2 separate regions of the Homo sapiens genome follow, and region 1 is linked to region 2. Evidence: fine-mapped expression QTL. Tissue or cell type: thyroid. Region 2 holds a variant in brackets; the other region holds the start of a gene. All regions are shown on one strand. Distances are from middle to middle.

Evidence for each region. PIP is the estimated chance that this variant, and not a neighbour inherited with it, causes the effect.
Region 1: it holds the start of AMN, and the variant in region 2 is fine-mapped to the expression of AMN in thyroid (GTEx, PIP 0.99).

Annotation. Positions count from the first base shown.
Region 1 is chr14:102,918,438-102,926,596 of GRCh38, reverse strand. It overlaps AMN (amnion associated transmembrane protein), which reads right to left and starts at 3,934. Exons shown (of 12, transcript NM_030943.4): 1 at 3,866-3,934; 2 at 2,768-2,886; 3 at 2,618-2,662. The coding sequence starts at 3,908. RefSeq lists silencers at 2,149-2,347, 3,511-3,710.
Region 2 is chr14:102,960,371-102,968,566 of GRCh38, reverse strand. It overlaps CDC42BPB (CDC42 binding protein kinase beta), which reads left to right. Exons shown (of 37, transcript NM_006035.4): 15 at 1-95; 16 at 209-314; 17 at 1,397-1,521; 18 at 2,180-2,285; 19 at 3,917-4,065; 20 at 5,412-5,506. Among named protein-coding and RNA genes, the nearest start is that of AMN, 42 kb to the right of the region's middle. The variant G/T (reference allele first, on the strand shown) is at 3,388.

The sequences.
Region 1 (8,159 bases), 42 kb after region 2:
AAAAAAAAAAAATCCAGGGTTTTTTTGGTGGTGGTGGTGGTAGTTGTTACCTGGCAAACCTATTCTACAATTTATCTGCAACAATGAGATCCACAAAGAACCTTGGAGCAGGAGTGAAGGGGATGGATATTAAGCCATCCTGCAGAGCCACTGTGTGGATAGTGTAGGGTCGGCAAAGCGGCCTGTGGACTTGAAGACAAGGCTCAGAGAGACCCACAACACCCAGGCACACGACGGATTCCAGCAGTGCTAGAACAAAAGGGCAAGGCGGAGGATGCTGGAAGCTGGGTTCACTCTAAGGAGAGAAACACAGCAGGAGCCCTCGCTGGTGCACGTGCCCCATAGGTACACAGTCCATTACCATTGTGACTGAGGAGCAGACGCGATTCTCAAACGAAACAGAAAAAACACAGTTCTAAGGTAAGGCGTTTTGCATTAGGTCGATTAAAATGAAGGTTTCTGTTCAGCACAGGACACTGCAGGCAAGTCCACAGTGAGCAGACTTGCAAAGCCTCCAGCCAAGGCAGGGGGATGGGTGAAAGACAGGAGACTCCCCCAACAAGAAAGCAGGCAAAAGGTAGAAATGGGAGGAAGGGCAAGGAAAAGGAAAATCGCAGGGAGGGACGCTCCCAACCACAGAATTACAAAGTAAGGCACTGATGTGCACGGCCTGTTACTCGGGCCTCATCTAGGCAGATGGATGAAGCTGGGAGCCAGGGGTGTGGAGGGCAACATAGCCGACGCGGGCAGGGGATGGGGGTGCTTGGGCGGCTCTGGGTGAATTCGGCCTCTGCAGGCTGGGACCCTGGGGCCACTGTCCCCTGCCCCTGCGCTGTTCCCACCGGCCAATGGATGATCAATGAATGAATTATTGAATAGATGAATGAATGGAGTATTGCCTCCTTTCAGAGCCCAAGTGCTTCCAAAGGAGATCATGAAAGTAAGGAGGCCGGCAGGGGAGGGGAGTAGGGGGAAATCCATGCCCTGGAACCCCCAGCCCAGCCTGACTCCTCTGCCCACAGGTCCCCCATCAGCTCCCAGTGCCCCCCTCACTCGGGCTGCCTGGTTGCCAAGGTTATGCGTGGGTTCTGGGGGCCGGGCCACAAGGGGCAACCGCCTCCCTCTCCCTGCCCTCCTCCTGTTTCCCGGGTGGGAGCGTCGCCATCTTGCTGTGGGTGCCCTCCCCAGTGTGTGGCAGCTTTTGGGTTAAGGCAGCTTTGGAAAACCTGAAGGAAGGAACCAAGCGGCCCTGGGGTGGAAATGAGGCCCAGGGTCCCTGACCCCGCATGGGGCAGGAATGGGCCAGGCCAAGCCCATTGAGCCATCCTCCCCACCCGCACACGCGGGGGCCCCAGGCCTGGACCCCACATCTGGAGCCGACACCCCGACCCAGCTCACCAGTGACCCTCACTCAGGAGTGACTGAGCTGGCAGGTGTGCAGGTGACAGGATGAGGACGCAGCCCAGGAGTGGCTGTGAAGGGGCTGGAAGGAAGCTTTTGCCCAGAGGCTTGGCCTGCAGGCCCCACAGTCACCCTGGAAGCTGGTGGGCTGCCGATGCAATGGGACAGTGGCCACCGAGGATACTCAACCAAGCGGGCAGGCTGTGTGCCAGTGAAGCTGTATTTACTGTCGCTGAGGTGTGAATGTCATATATTTTTCAAGTGCCACAAAAGATTGTTCTTTTTTTCCCCAACGATTACAAAGTGTAAAAACCGTTCCTTGCTCCACCCGTAGGGGCTGCATTTGGCCTGTAGCTTGCGGAACTCCACCTTAAACAAGGAAATTAGCTTCTTTCTCTGGGGCCTTATCAGAGCCTTTAATACGTGATGAAGCTCCAGGAAAGTGCAGGCTGCAGCATTTCCCAAACTTACCTACTCATGGAACCCGCTTTCCTCCCAGTTCCCATCATGTTCTTGGAGTGTTGTGTGAAGCAGTTTGAGAAAAAGGTCCCCTAGGGCAGCAGTCCCCAACCTTTTTGGCACCAGGGACCAGTTTTGTGGAAGACAGTTCTTCCATGGACTGATGGGAGTGGGGAAGGTTTCAGGATTAAGCTGTCCCATCTCAGATGTCAGCCACTTAAGGAGTGCACACCCACCCAGGCCCCTCGCTGGCGCAGTGACAATAGGGGTCCCTAGGAGAATCTGATCTGATCTGAAGGGAGGCAGAGCCAGGCAGGAGTGGGCTCGCCTCTTCCTGGGCGGCCACTTCCTAACAGGCCAGGGACCCGGATGGTGGGTAGAGGGGGGGGTGTTGGGGACACTTTCCCTAGTGTTCTAAAGATGGAGCTTTAGGCACCAGGACAAGGCAAGGCTTTGGGGGAAGGGCATGGAGCAGGCGCTTCCTGGGAAGACCACCCACTGCTGGGCATCACAAGGGCTGTGGGGACAGGGGTGCCTCCCATCCCTCCCAGGACACAGCCTGGCTGGGACCATGGGACCAAGCTCCCCTAGGTTCCCCCCCACTCCCTGCCTCCTAGAATATTCTCCAGAGGCCAAAGTCCCAGTCCTGCAGTGCCTCCATGCCGGTGGGGTCCGCCCTCAAGGCACAGCAGTCCCTGAAGGCGCTTCAGAGACTCTGTGAACCCCCAGCCCAGTGGCAGTAGCAGCCCGGCCTTACCATGTCTGAGACGGCGTGACCTTCTTGCACCAGGACTGACACCATCTGCAGGAAGAAGCTGCCTCAGCCGAGCCGGGAGCAACCCCCACCGGGGCCACACGGTCTCAGGGGTCCAGGCCCATCACCGACCCCGCCGGCGCTCCCAGGCACCTTGTCCGCCGGGAACTCAACGGCGCCGCCGGCGCACGGGGTCCGGTTCTGGCTCCAGTTGGCTGCGACGTCGAAGTCCGTGTTGGGGACCCAGAGTTTGGAGACCGCCTGGGTCAGTGCTGGGGAGGAGGCGACTGAGTGCCCGGGATGCTCTCCGGGATGCTCCCTTCTCAGGGAAGGCCACCCACCCAGAGAAGTGCGGAAGGTCCGCGCGGATCACCCGGGACGCATAGGAACCCCATCCCCGGGGGCCCGGACCCAGACCCTGGTCCCTCCCGGCCAGACTGTGGGCGCCCTGCCCGGGCGCTCTCCAACGGACTTCTACTGATACCTGCAGAGCCCGCTCAAACGCGCCCTGCAGGACGCCTGCCTAGATAGCCTCCCGGCACTGCCCCCAGTTTGCCTGGCGCTGGAGCAGAGGACAGCGTTGTTAAGGACAGTGACAACTGGGGCATGGAGGAGGATGGGGCAGCACAGACCTCTTCTCGGCCTTGGAATCAGGAAGGCTTCCCGGAGGAGTCCTACCTGGGCCGGGAAGAGCTGCGACAGAGCGCAACCCGGTATGAGAAGTAAGAAGGGGCTGGGGGCGGCAGGACCAGGTCAGGCCGGCCCTGAATGTGGTGGGTGGGGTTGTCCTGAGGGAGCCGCGAGGGGTTTAGGGAAGGGGGCGCCAGGGACACGCGCCGGCCTGGTGTGAAGGCGGAGGAGGGCTCAGTGCTCCCTTGGGGACCGGGAAGCTGAGGCGGTCTGCCGAGCCCCGCAGGCGCACACTCGCTGCTCTCGGCAGGTTCTGGGGACCGCGCCCATTTCGCAGACGGAAAAACCGCGAGGGCAGGAGCCGCCGGAGGCCGGGGCTGGCCGAGGTTCCCGGAGCCCCTCCTCTCCTCTCCCGCACCGCCCGATGCACTGGCCGCGCACTTCCGGGCTGCGCACTCGCCAGACGAGGGAGGCAGGGCCGAGTTTCACGCCCCCAACCCTCCAAAGCCCTCCCTGCCCACTCCTCGGAAGATCTTCACCCTCCAGGCCTAGAGCGACCTCGGCCCTGGGTCCTGACAGACCGCTACCGTCCGGGCCCGCACCGGTGTGGTCCCGGCTCACCGCAGAGCTGCAGCCACAGCAGGACCCGGCCCAGGACGCCCATCTCGCCTCGGCTCCTTGCACCCCACCAGGAGACTTTGCCCCACTGGACCCACGTGACCAGGCAGGTCGGGTGGGGGCACCAGGGTCGGTTACACATTTACCTCCAGACCCGCCCAGGGCCGACTCTTCAGGCCCCTGGGAGGCACCTTCTCAGCCTCCCCTTACCCGCCCCTGCAGGGCCTGAACACCTTAGGTTCTCAGGAAGAAGGGCAAAGAAGAAGGGCTTGGCGAGACTGACCTACCCTGTAAAATGGGTGTCTTGCCGGGAGGGGGAATAAACGACCTTTGAATTCACCCCTTTCTCTGTCCTGTGTGCTGCTAGGGCTGAGCTAGTCTGCTCACCATTGGAACTGGGTGTCCACTTCTCCACGCAGTGCCCCTGTCCCATGGGCTGTGGGTGGTGGTTGGATGATAGAAGGAAGATCCTGGATGGAACATGGTATGTGGATGGTATAGGAGGGTGGATTGTGGATGATGGTGGAGAGTAGTGGATGGTGAGTAGGGGACAGCTGATGGACAGCAACATTGATGGTGCATGGTGTACGGCATATGGACGCATGGCAGATGAATGGTAAATGGTTGACGGGGTGGATGGTGAGTGATAGAGGGTGGATGGGTGATGAATGGATGGATGAGGATGGTGAGTGAAAAATGAATGAATGGCCGGGCGTGGTGGCTCATGCCTGTAATCCCAGCACTTTGGGAGGGTGAGGCAGGCGGATCGCGAGGTCAGGAGATCAAGACCATCCTGGCTAACGCGGTGAAACCCCGTCTATACTAAAAATATACAAAAAAATTAACCGGGCATGGTAGAAGGCGCCTGTAGTCCCAGCTACTTGGGGGGCTGAGGCAGAACGGCGTGAACCCAGGAGGTGGAGCTTGCAGTGAGCCACGATCGTGCGCTGCACTCCAGCCTGAGCGACAGAGCGAGACTCCGTCTCAAAAAAAAAAAAAAAAAAAGGAAAAGGAATGGATGGTAATCAGGGAGTGGTGGATGGATAATGGCATAAATGGATACATGGCCGACAGGTAGATCATAAAGAGTGGGTGTTGGCGGGGCACGGTGGCTCACGCCTGTAACCGCAGCACTTTGGGAGGCCAAGGCGGGCAGATCACCTGAGGTCGGGAGTTCGAGACCAGCCTGACCAACATGGAGAAACCCCATCTCTACTAAAAATACAAAATTAGATAGGCATGGTGGCACATGCCTGTAATCCCAGCTACTTGGGAGGCTAAGGCAGGAGAATCGTTTGAACCTGGAAGGCGGAGGTTGTGGTGATCGGAGATCACGCCACTGTGCTCCAGCCTGGGCAACAAGAGTGAAACCCCATCTCAAAAAAAAAAAAGTGGGTGTTAAATGGTGGATGTTTGGTGAGTGATGAATGCTGAATGGATGGATGGTGGATGGTGAATAGATAGATGGTAAATGGATAGATGGTGGATGATGGTTGCATAAATGGTGAATTGTGGATGGAGATGGACGGTGGATAGTGAATAGATGGTGGATAGTGAATAGACAGTGGATAGTGGATAATGGGTGGATAGTAGATGGTGGATAGGATGATAAATGGATGGGTAATGGATGGTAGATAAGTAGATAATGGATAAATGGTGGATGATGGATGGTAGGTGGATGATGGTTGGTGGGTGGTGGATAATGGACAAGTGAATGGTGATGAGTAGATGGTGAATATTAAGTGGATGGATGGGCGGCAGATGGTAGATAGTGGATGATAGATGGTGGATGGTGGATGGTAAGATGAATAGTGGTTGGTGGATGGTGGGTGGTGGATGGTGGGTGGATGGAAGGATGGGTGGTGAATGAGTGAATGGTGGATGGTGAATAGGTGGATGGTGGATGGTGGATGGTGAATGGCCGATGGTGGATGTGAATGGTGATGGGTGGTGGATGAATGGATGGATGAATGGCGAATGGTGGATGGCAGATTGTGGATAAGTGGATGGTGGATGGATGGATGGTGGATGGGTGAATGGGTGGATGGATGAATGGTGGATGGTAGACAGTGGATGAGGGATGATAGATGAATGGTGGGTGGTGGATGAGTGGATGGCGAATGGGTGAATGGACATATAGATGGGTGGATGGATGGATGGTGGATGGTGGGTGAGTGAATGATGGGTGGATGGTGGATGAAGGGATGGTGGATGGTAGATGGGTGGATGTGTGAATGGGTGGATGGATGAATGGACGCTGGATGAGTGAATTGTGGATGATGGATGAGTGGATGGTGGATATGTGAATGGGTAGAGGGATGGATGGGTAGATGGATGGTGGAGAATGGATGGTGGATGAGTGAATGGTGGATGAATGGATGGTAGGTTGTGGATGGGTGGATGGTGAATGTGTGGATGGATAGATGGTGGATGGATGGATAGTGGGAGTGGATGGTGGATGGATGAATGGTGGATAGATGGATGGTGGATGTATGCATGAATGGACGGTGGATAAATGAATGGTGAATGAATGAGTGGTAGATGGATGGAAGGTGATGGTGGATGGTGAATTGGGATAGATGGGTGGTGCGTTATGAATGGTGGATGATGGATGGTGGATGGATGGAAGGTGATGGTGGATGGTGAATGGGGATAGATGGATGTTGGATGATGGATGGTGGATGGATGGAAGGTGATGGTGGATGGTGAATGGGGATGGATGGTGGATGATGGATGGTAGATGGATGGAAGGTGATGGTGGATGGTGAATGGGGATAGATGGATGGTGGATGATGGATGGGAGATGGATGGAAGGTGATGGTGGATGGTGAATGGGGATAGATGGATGTTGGATGATGGATGGTGGATGGATGGAAGGTGATGGTGGATGGTGAATGGGGATAGATGGATGTTGGATGATGGATGGTGGATGGATGGAAGGTGATGGTGGATGGTGAATGGGGATAGATGGATGGTGGATGATGGATGGTGGATGGATGGAAGGTGATGGTGGATGGTGAATGGGGATAGATGGGTGGTGGATGATGGATGGTAGATGGATGGAAGGTGATGGTGGATGGTGAATGGGGATGATGGGTGGTGTGTTATGAATGGTGGATGGTGGATGGTAGGTAGATGGAAGGTGATGGTGGATGGTGAATGGGGATAGATGGGTGGTGCGTTATGAATGGTGGATGATGGGTGGTGGGTTGATATAGTATTTTGTAGAAGGACAGTTGATCAACAGACAGATGACGGATGGTAGATGAAAGCAGATAGTTGGCTGGGCGCGGTGGCTCACGCCTGTAACCCCAGCATTTTGGGAGGCTGAGGATGGAGTATCACTTGAGGTCAGGAGTTCAAGACCAGCATGGACAACATGGTGAAACCTTGTCTCTACTAAAAATACAAAAATGAGCCAAATGTGATGGTGCACATTTGTAATCCCAACTACTTGGGAGGCTGGGGCCGAATTGCTTCAACCTGGGAGGCAGAGGTTGCAGTGAGCCGAGATTGTGCCACTCCACTCCAGCCTGGGCGACAGAGTGAGACTCTATTAAAAAAAAAAAAAAAAAAAAAAAAAAAAAGAGTAGATAGTTGATTGTGGATGGTGAATGGGTAAGTGTATGGATGGCAGCTCACAGATGGTGAATGTTATTGGTGGATGGATGGATAGAAGAGTGATTATGGAAGGATGGTTGATGGATGGTAGATGGTAGTTGAATAAAGGAGAACGAGGGAAAGGGCGGACGGTGGCAAAATGAATCATGGTTGCATAGTGGATGGTTGATGGGTGAAAGAGAAATCGTAGCTGTTGAACAGATGTGTATGTATGGATAGTTGTTGCAATGCACGGTGGGTGAGAAAAAGTTGTGGATTTTGGATGTAGATGGATGGTGGACAAGACCAAATGGTGGAGGGATGGATTGATGGTGGATGAATAATGGTGAATGAATTTTAGATGATGTGTGAATGGATAGTAGTAAGTAGAGAGACAGTAGGTAGATGGATAAGAGTACAGGAGTTACTGGATATAAATCAATGGGTGGGTGGACAGAGCATGGTGGATAAATTGTGAATGAATGTGCGCTAGGTGATGGATGGATGATTGATGGGGGTTGGGGGAATGGGTCTGCAGTGCATGCTTGGATCTGCATCATGCACGTTGGAATGGCTGGGTGGTGAGTGAATGGAGGATGGATTTGTGGGTGTTGGGAAGCAGAGAGGTAGAAAGATGAACAGCAAATGGATTGTGCATGATGTTTGGATGATTTGATGATGGGGAGATGAGTTTCTG
Region 2 (8,196 bases):
AAGAAGGAGGTGCATGATTCAGAAAGCCACCAGCTGGCCCTGCAGAAAGAAATCTTGATGTTAAAAGATAAGTTAGAAAAGTCAAAGCGAGAACGGTAGGTTTTCATGAGCTTCTCAGTTCAGAAGATGCAAGCTGATACCCACGCCATAGATACGAATATCAGTGAAGTTACGAGCTTTTAAAACTGTTTCTCGCTCACCTTGGCAGGCATAACGAGATGGAGGAGGCAGTAGGTACAATAAAAGATAAATACGAACGAGAAAGAGCGATGCTGTTTGATGAAAACAAGAAGCTAACTGCTGAAAATGAAAAGGTAATTAATTCAAAGTACCTGAGTTAGCACTTTGTGTGGAAGTTGTAATTTAAAAAAAAATTATTTTTAATTTGTGTGGGTACATAGTAGGTATATATATTTATGGGGGAGTAGAATGTCGTCATTCTTGAGTCTTGGAAGTTTGGTTTTTTTTTTTTGAGATGGAGTCTCGCTCTGTCGCTCAGGCTGGAGTGCAGTGACGCGATCTTGGCTCACTGCAACCTCTGCCTCCCAGGTTCATGCCATTCTCCCACCTCAGCCTCCCAAGTGGCTGGGACTACAGGCGTCTGCCACCACGCCTGGCTAAGTTTTTGTATTTTTAGTAGAGACGGGTTTTCACCGTGTTAGCCAGGATGGTCTCAATCTCCTGACCTCATGATCCACCCACCTCAGCCTCCCAAAGTGCTGGGATTACAGGCATGAGCCACTGCGCCGGCCGAAGTTTGGTGTCTTTTTACAGTGCAGTAATGTGCCATATAACGATGCTTCCATCAATGATAGACTGTGTGTACAACAGGCGTCCCGTACGATCATAATACTGTACTTTACTCTACCTCTTCTGTGTTGAGATACACAGATACTTAGCATTGTGCTACAGCCGCCGGCAGCGTCCCGCACAGCAACATGGTATGCAGGCTTGGGGCCTGGAATTGACAGGCTGTACCACAGGGCCTGGTGTGCGGCAGCCGCACCGTCTAGGCTTGCGTGAGTGCATTCACGCTGTGTGTGCAAGGACACGTTTCTCAGACCGTGTTCTTGCTGTTTCACTACACGTGACTGTTTTAATTTTTGAATGGAGTCATGTGTTTGGTCTTTTAAATAGGATGTTTGTATTCAGCGAAAAGATGCCAATTGCCTGAAGTCACTAGCTCCAGCTCCATCAGTTTAGGTTTAGATTTGAATTGAAATGTGACTTAAGCTAGATACAGTGAAAAAAATCCATATCATGAACTTAGTTTGGAAAAATCTCATGACGATTAAAGAAAACTTTCAGAGTCTTCAAAAGAACTTCCAGTGTTAAATCCAGCATACTTAAAGGATGCCCGATTAACAAGTTCTGTGGTGAAATTGTTTCATTTCAGCTCTGTTCCTTTGTGGATAAACTCACAGCTCAAAATAGACAGCTGGAGGATGAGCTGCAGGATCTGGCAGCCAAGAAGGAGTCAGTGGCCCACTGGGAAGCTCAGATTGCGGAAATCATTCAGTGGTACGTGCGCGGCCCCATTAGCGGCCGTGAATCCGCTCCCTGCTCAGTCCATGGGGTCTGCCCCGCCTCTTCTGCCTGATCCTGTGCTCCACGCCAGGCCGTGCCTCTCAGGCTGGGGTGCAGGTCTCACTGCTGTTCCCCAGAACTTCTCATGTCTGGGGCAGTGGTTCTGTTGGAATAGAGGTGGAGATACGCCCCCACCAACCCACTGAAGGACTTGGGGCAAACCGTTCACACCCCTTGCGTTCTCAGAGACAGGGGAGGCAGAGCCCTCCCAAAGCGGCTGCAGAAGCAGCAGGGAGACTTGGAGCGAGCTGGGACCTGGCCCTCCGCTCCTAAGGTGTGAAGTTGTAATTAAAAAAAGAGTTTTTATTTTTAATTTTTGTGGGTGCGTAGTAGGTATATATATTTATGGAGTAATAGAATTTTTTCATTCTTGAGTCTTGGAAGTTTGGTGTCTTTTTAAACTGCAGTCATGTGCAATGTAACGACGCATCCATCAATGAGATCCCGTGTATACAACGGGTACACTGCGGGCACTCTAGCTGACGTGACACTGTGTCACTGTGTGCCGAGGAAGGCGGGAACGTCCCCTTCTTGTTTGGCTTCTCCCTGATAGCCATGCTTCGTGAGATAGAACATCTGTTCCCTCCTCCAGGGTCAGTGACGAGAAAGATGCCCGGGGTTACCTTCAAGCTCTTGCTTCCAAGATGACCGAAGAGCTCGAGGCTTTGAGGAGTTCTAGTCTGGGGTCAAGAACACTGGTAGGTTTTGTGTAATGCCTGCATTTCTATTACTGAATAATTCGCTAATGGTTTTAAGTATAAATGTGACATATAAGTACTATTTAGGGAATTACAGTGATGCAAGAGACTTCTGTGTAACCAGTTCCCCAATTTAAGGAACGCCAACATTTGCCAGCTCTCAGATCATCATGGCTTCTCTCGACAGCATTCATTCGTTTAGCAAATAATTACTGAGCACTGAGCTCCGTGGTGTCAAGTTAAGACTGGATTCTGCCCTCAGAGAGCTTGCTTTTATTAATTTCATTGGTTCATTTAGTGATGTGTGTATTTTATTTTTTTCCTCCCGCGACAGTCTCACTCTGTTGCCCAGGCTAGAGTGCAGTGGCGTGATCTCGGCTTACTGCAACCTCCGCCTCCCGGCTTCAAGTGATTCTCCTGCCTCAGCCCCCCCGAGTAGCTGGGATTACAGGCGTGTGCCGCTACACCTGGCTCATTTTTGTATTTTAGTAGAGACGGGTTTCCACCATGTTGGCCAGGCTGGTCTCAAACCCCTGACCTCAGGTGATCTGCCCGCTTCGGCCTCCCAAAGTGCTGGGATTACAGGCATGAGCCCCCACACCTGGCCTTCCTCTGTCCATTTTCTTCTCTTTACTGTTATAGATGGAAAATGAAGCATTCTCAATTGTGTTCAATGAAAGGTTTTCAGTTTGTTTTAAAAAAGAAAAAACAGCAAGATGGCATCTCTGGACTTCTTTGATACCTCTCGAAAGTTGATGTCATACATTGGGCAACTCAGTAAGAAAACAGGAGGATGATGTTAGTGAACTGGCTTATTCCACTGTTGCTTCATCCTAGGTCACTCTGTCATTCTTCCCTTATTATTTTAGTCTTTTTTTTTTTTTTTTTTTTTTAATCACAGGTAGGAATGAGTAATGACATAATTCCCAGGATGGTGAAATAGCAAAACGTTTCAAGTTATGAGAAAAAGATAACCGAACCCTATAATGTACCTTAGGTTTGTAAAAGGGTCCAGGGTCCAGTGGACCCATATAGAAATTGCATTACAGAGGCCAGGCGCAGCGGCTCATGCCTGTAATCCCAGCACTTTGGGAGGCCAAGG[G/T]GGGTGGATCACGAGAGCAGGAGTTGGAGACTAGCCTGGCCAACGTGGTGAAACCCTGTCTCTACTAAAAATACAAAAATTAGCCAGGCATGGTGGTGCGGCACCTGTAATCCCAGCTACTGGCTACTGGAGAGGCTGAGACAGGAAAATCGCTTGAACCCAAGAGGCGGAGGTCGCGGTAAGCTGAGATCACGCCATTGCACTCCAGCCTAGGCAACAAGAGCGAAACTACATCTCAAACAAAAAAAAAAAGAAAAGAAAAGAAAAGAAATTGCACTACAGAATCACTTTTATTCTTCTAAAAGATAAAGTAAATTATTTAGTTATTTTTTAGAAGATTTCTGAGGAAGAGTAAAAAAAGTCATAAAATATCAAAACTAAAACTCCTGAGGCACCTCCATAATTTAGAGTTAATATCTAAATGAGACCGTAATGGCTTAAGGTTAGACAAAGATAACTTATTTGTTAACATTAGTTTAACAAGCGGATAACTGAAAATGCATTTTTAACGCCATGACCGTGTCTCAAGGACCCGCTGTGGAAGGTGCGCCGCAGCCAGAAGCTGGACATGTCCGCGCGGCTGGAGCTGCAGTCGGCCCTGGAGGCGGAGATCCGGGCCAAGCAGCTTGTCCAGGAGGAGCTCAGGAAGGTCAAGGACGCCAACCTCACCTTGGAAAGGTACTTGGTGCCAGGGTCTGACTCCAGGTAGGAGCAGTGGCTGTGTGGCCTCGAGCCCGCCCTGAGCCTCACGGGCTCCGATGCTCCTCGCCTGGAAAATCGGGGCCACGGCGTTTGCTGGAGCCTTAGGAGGCAGCACGTCGGGTTCACCTGCAGGAGCCCCGAATAGCAGGCCGTTCTGGCACTGAGGTGGCCGCGAGGGTGCAGGGCCTTGCCTGCCGCGGGGGGGTGTGGTGCGGTGCGAGCCGTGTTTTGACGGCAGCGGGTGCTTGTGCCCCCACGCTGGGTAGCGAGACTCACACCGCTGTCTGACAGGAGCCCCTCTCACTGCTTAGTCACCTCCGTGCCGCTCCATTCACTAATTCAAGATTGTTCCTTTCAAGCTAACGTGAATATTTTAAAACAGAGGTTGAAGATGGCATTCTCACTTGAAATTTTTCCCTAACTCCAAGCAGTAACGAGAACGCCATTTTCACACAGCAGTGATTCAGTCAGTATTTGCTGAGAGTCTCCTCTTTGCAGATCTGGTTTTACGAGGATACGATAATGAACGTCAGTTTCATAAAAACCAGGCCAGCTCTGCTGTGCCATGAGGCAGGCGAGGACCTGGAAGGGACAGTGTCTCTAACAGAATTACCAAGTCCCAAATCCTGTTAGTTTGGGGCTAAAAAATTAATGGTAATAGGTTTCAGTTAAATTGACTTTCTTTATACTGGGAATTGCTGTAAGACTGTTCTGTTGTTAAATCCTGTGACCCTCCCACAGCCCAACAGGGTAGGCAGTCTTGTTACTCCCACTTACACACACTCCGCAGGTGATTTGCCCACTGTCACCCCACTGATGAGTGGACCAGCCCCCACAAACTGCATCCCTCCCGGCCAGGTGTTCCCCGTGGCAGCCTGACTTCCTCTGTCCCCTGCACGAAGTTGCTGGAATTGCAAGGCTACCCGTGCGGGTGGTGCTGGTGCTTCTTGGTGCAGCCACCATCTTGCCAGTTATGGGAAAGATATTGATGGGGCTGACGGCTGAGCGGCCTGGGCCCTGTGTCCCTGAAGAACAGAGGACTCGCCTGGGAACAAGATTAGGAAGGTCAAGAGCTCCATTAGGCCTTCATGAGACACGCCTTCCTAAGCCATGACTTTTTAAATTCCTGTTTGAATGTTTATATTTGAAATATTCGTACTGTTCATGGTGTTTGCAGTAGAAAGGCCCAGCATGAGCTACCGTGTTCTGGACAGTCCTGAGTGCTGGGGAGAAATCCCGGCTCTCTCATCCTGACCTGCCCCATACCAGCTCACAGACAACCTCTTCTCAGTGCACTTAAAGCCATTTATTTTTTATTTTAGCAAACTAAAGGATTCCGAAGCCAAAAACAGAGAATTATTAGAAGAAATGGAAATTTTGAAGAAAAAGATGGAAGAAAAATTCAGAGCAGATACTGGTAAATTAATGTTGTGCGATTCTGCATTATTTGAATATAAGTATTTTTCAAATGAATGTTTTTATTTTCTTTTCGACTTAATAGTTACTTTAGAAGCACCTACAGAATTCCAAATTCAGTATTTTCCAAAATCAGCATTTTCAAACAACATCTTCAAATATATTTTCCCCAAAGGTAGCCATTGTTTTTGGTTTATCCTTCCTTTTTTTTTGAGACAGTCTCGCTGTGTCACCCAGGCTGGAGTGCAATGGCACAATCTCGGCTCACTGCAACCTCTGCATCCTGGGTTCAAGGATTCTCCCGCCTCAGCCTCGCAAGTAGCTGGGATTGCAGGTGCACACCACCACCACCCCTGGCTAATTTTTGTATTTTTAGTAGAGATGGGGTTTTGCCACGTTGGCCAGGCTGGTCTGCAACTCCTGACCTCAGGCAATCCACCCACCTCAGCCTCCCAAAGTGCTGGAATTACAGGTGTGAGCCACCGTGCCCAGCCTATCCTTCCTTTCATCTTGAAAGCATATGGCAAATCCACACAAATCTAGGCACACATTTGTATCCCCTGATAACACAAAAGGCATCATTTTGTGCTGGAGGGGCCACCCCGGCCTCCTCTGCAGCTGCACTGTGCGCTGCCGTGGGCTGGCCAGCCACTGGGATGGTTTATTCCCTGGCATTTGCTGTCACAGAAAGTGCTGCCAGGAGTGGCTGTATGGATAGAACATTTCCTGTTTTTGTCGGTGTATTTCGGGATAGAGTTCTAGAAGTGGGATTGCCAGGGCAAAGGGCAAACATGCCTGTACACTCTTGCTGCATGCTGACGGACAGGCCTCCAGAGGCTGTGCAGTGACGTTCCTCCCACTTTGCATGAGGGGTTTCTGCCCCACAGCCTACCCACAAAGTAGGATTTCAGACTTTTGGATTTTTGCCGCTCTGAATAGGTGAGAAATAGCATCTCCGTAGAGGTTTAACTTGCATATTTCTCATAAGTAAGATTGAGCATCTTTTTATATGTTTGAGGGACTTTTGTATTTTGTGCATTATATGTTTTTATTGTTTGCCCGCTTTTAAAAATTCAGGTTGTTAGTCTTGCGGATTTCTAAAAGCCTTTTGCATTTTGGGGATTAGTGCCTTTTGTTTGTGATGTAAGTTGCAAGTATTTTTCCTAGTTTGTCTTTGCTTATCATTTATTTATTTTTTTGCCAAATAAAAGTGGTTTTGCAGCCGGTGCGGTGGCTCACGCCTGTAATCCCAACACTTCGGGAGGCTGAGGTGGGCGGATCACCTGAGGTCTGGAGTTCGAGACCAGCCTGACCAACATGGAGAAACCCCATCTCTTGTAAAAATACAAAATTAGCTGGGCGTGGTGGTGCATGCCTGTAATCCCAGCTACTCAGGAGGCTGAGGCAGGAGTATTGTTTGAACTTGAACCTCAACCCGGGAGGCAGAGGTTGCGGTGAGCCGAGATTGCACCATTGCACTCCAGCTTGGGCAACAAGAGCAAAACGCTGTCTTAAAAAAAAGTGGGGGGGGTTTTGCCATCTCTACTAAAAATACAAAAATTAGCTGGGCGTGGTGGGGCATGCCTATAGTCCCAGCTACTCAGGAGGCTGAGGCAGGAGAATCGCTTGAACCTGGGAGGCAGAGGTTGCAGTGAGCTGAGATCTCGCCACTGCACTCCAGCCTGGGTGACAGAGCCAGATTCCGTCTGTCAAGAAAAAAAAAAAAAGGTGGTTTTCAAAATTTTTTGTGTGTCAAGTTTTCAGTCTTCTTCCTTTTTTGAGTCATAAATAGGAAAATACACCTAACTCCCAGTTGTTGGAGGGATTCCCTCATGCTTCTCATACTTGTGTGGCTTCATGATTGATTGATTGATTGATTGATTGATTGATTGATTGATTCAGGGTCTTGCTCTGTTGCCCAGGCTGGAGTGCAGTAGCACGATCAGGGTTCACTGCAGCCTCAACTTTCTGGGCTCAAGTGATCCTCCCACCTCAGCCCCCTGAGTAGCTGGGACTACAGGCACGTGCCACCACACCTGGCTATTTATTTATTTATTTATTTATTTTTAGAGATGGGGTTGTGCCGTATTTCCCAGGCTGGTCTTGAACTCCTGGACTCAAGCAATCTGACTGCCGTGTCTCCCAAAGTGCTAGGATTACAGGCGTGAGCCACCGTGCCCAGCCTCATTTTTTAAATTAGAATACTGATCCATTTGAAATTTGCTCTGACATACGGTTCGAGGAGTGTATCCAGTTTTATCTTTTGCTAATGGCTAGCTGGTTGTCCAATACCAGTTATTAAGCTATTTTTCCTGCTGGTTTTATGTATGACTGTTGTCATGTACAGGATCACCATGGGCTTGGGTCTGTTTCTGGATCTTCTCCCCTGTTCCATTGTTCATGGGGAAGAACCACTTGATTCTTGTTTTTTGATATGTGTTTTTTTGTGTGTGTGACAGGGTCTCACTCTGTCACCCAGGCAGGAATGCAGTGGCACGTGCAGCCTCAATCTCCCCAGCTCAAGTGATCCTCCTGTCTCTGTCTCCCAAGTAGCTAGGACCACAGGCACATGCCACCATGCACAGCTAATTTTATTTATTTAATTTTTATGGAGATGGGGTCTCTCTGTGTTGCCCAGGCTGGTCTCAAACTCATGGCCTCAAGCAGTCCTCCGACCTTGGCCTCCCAAAG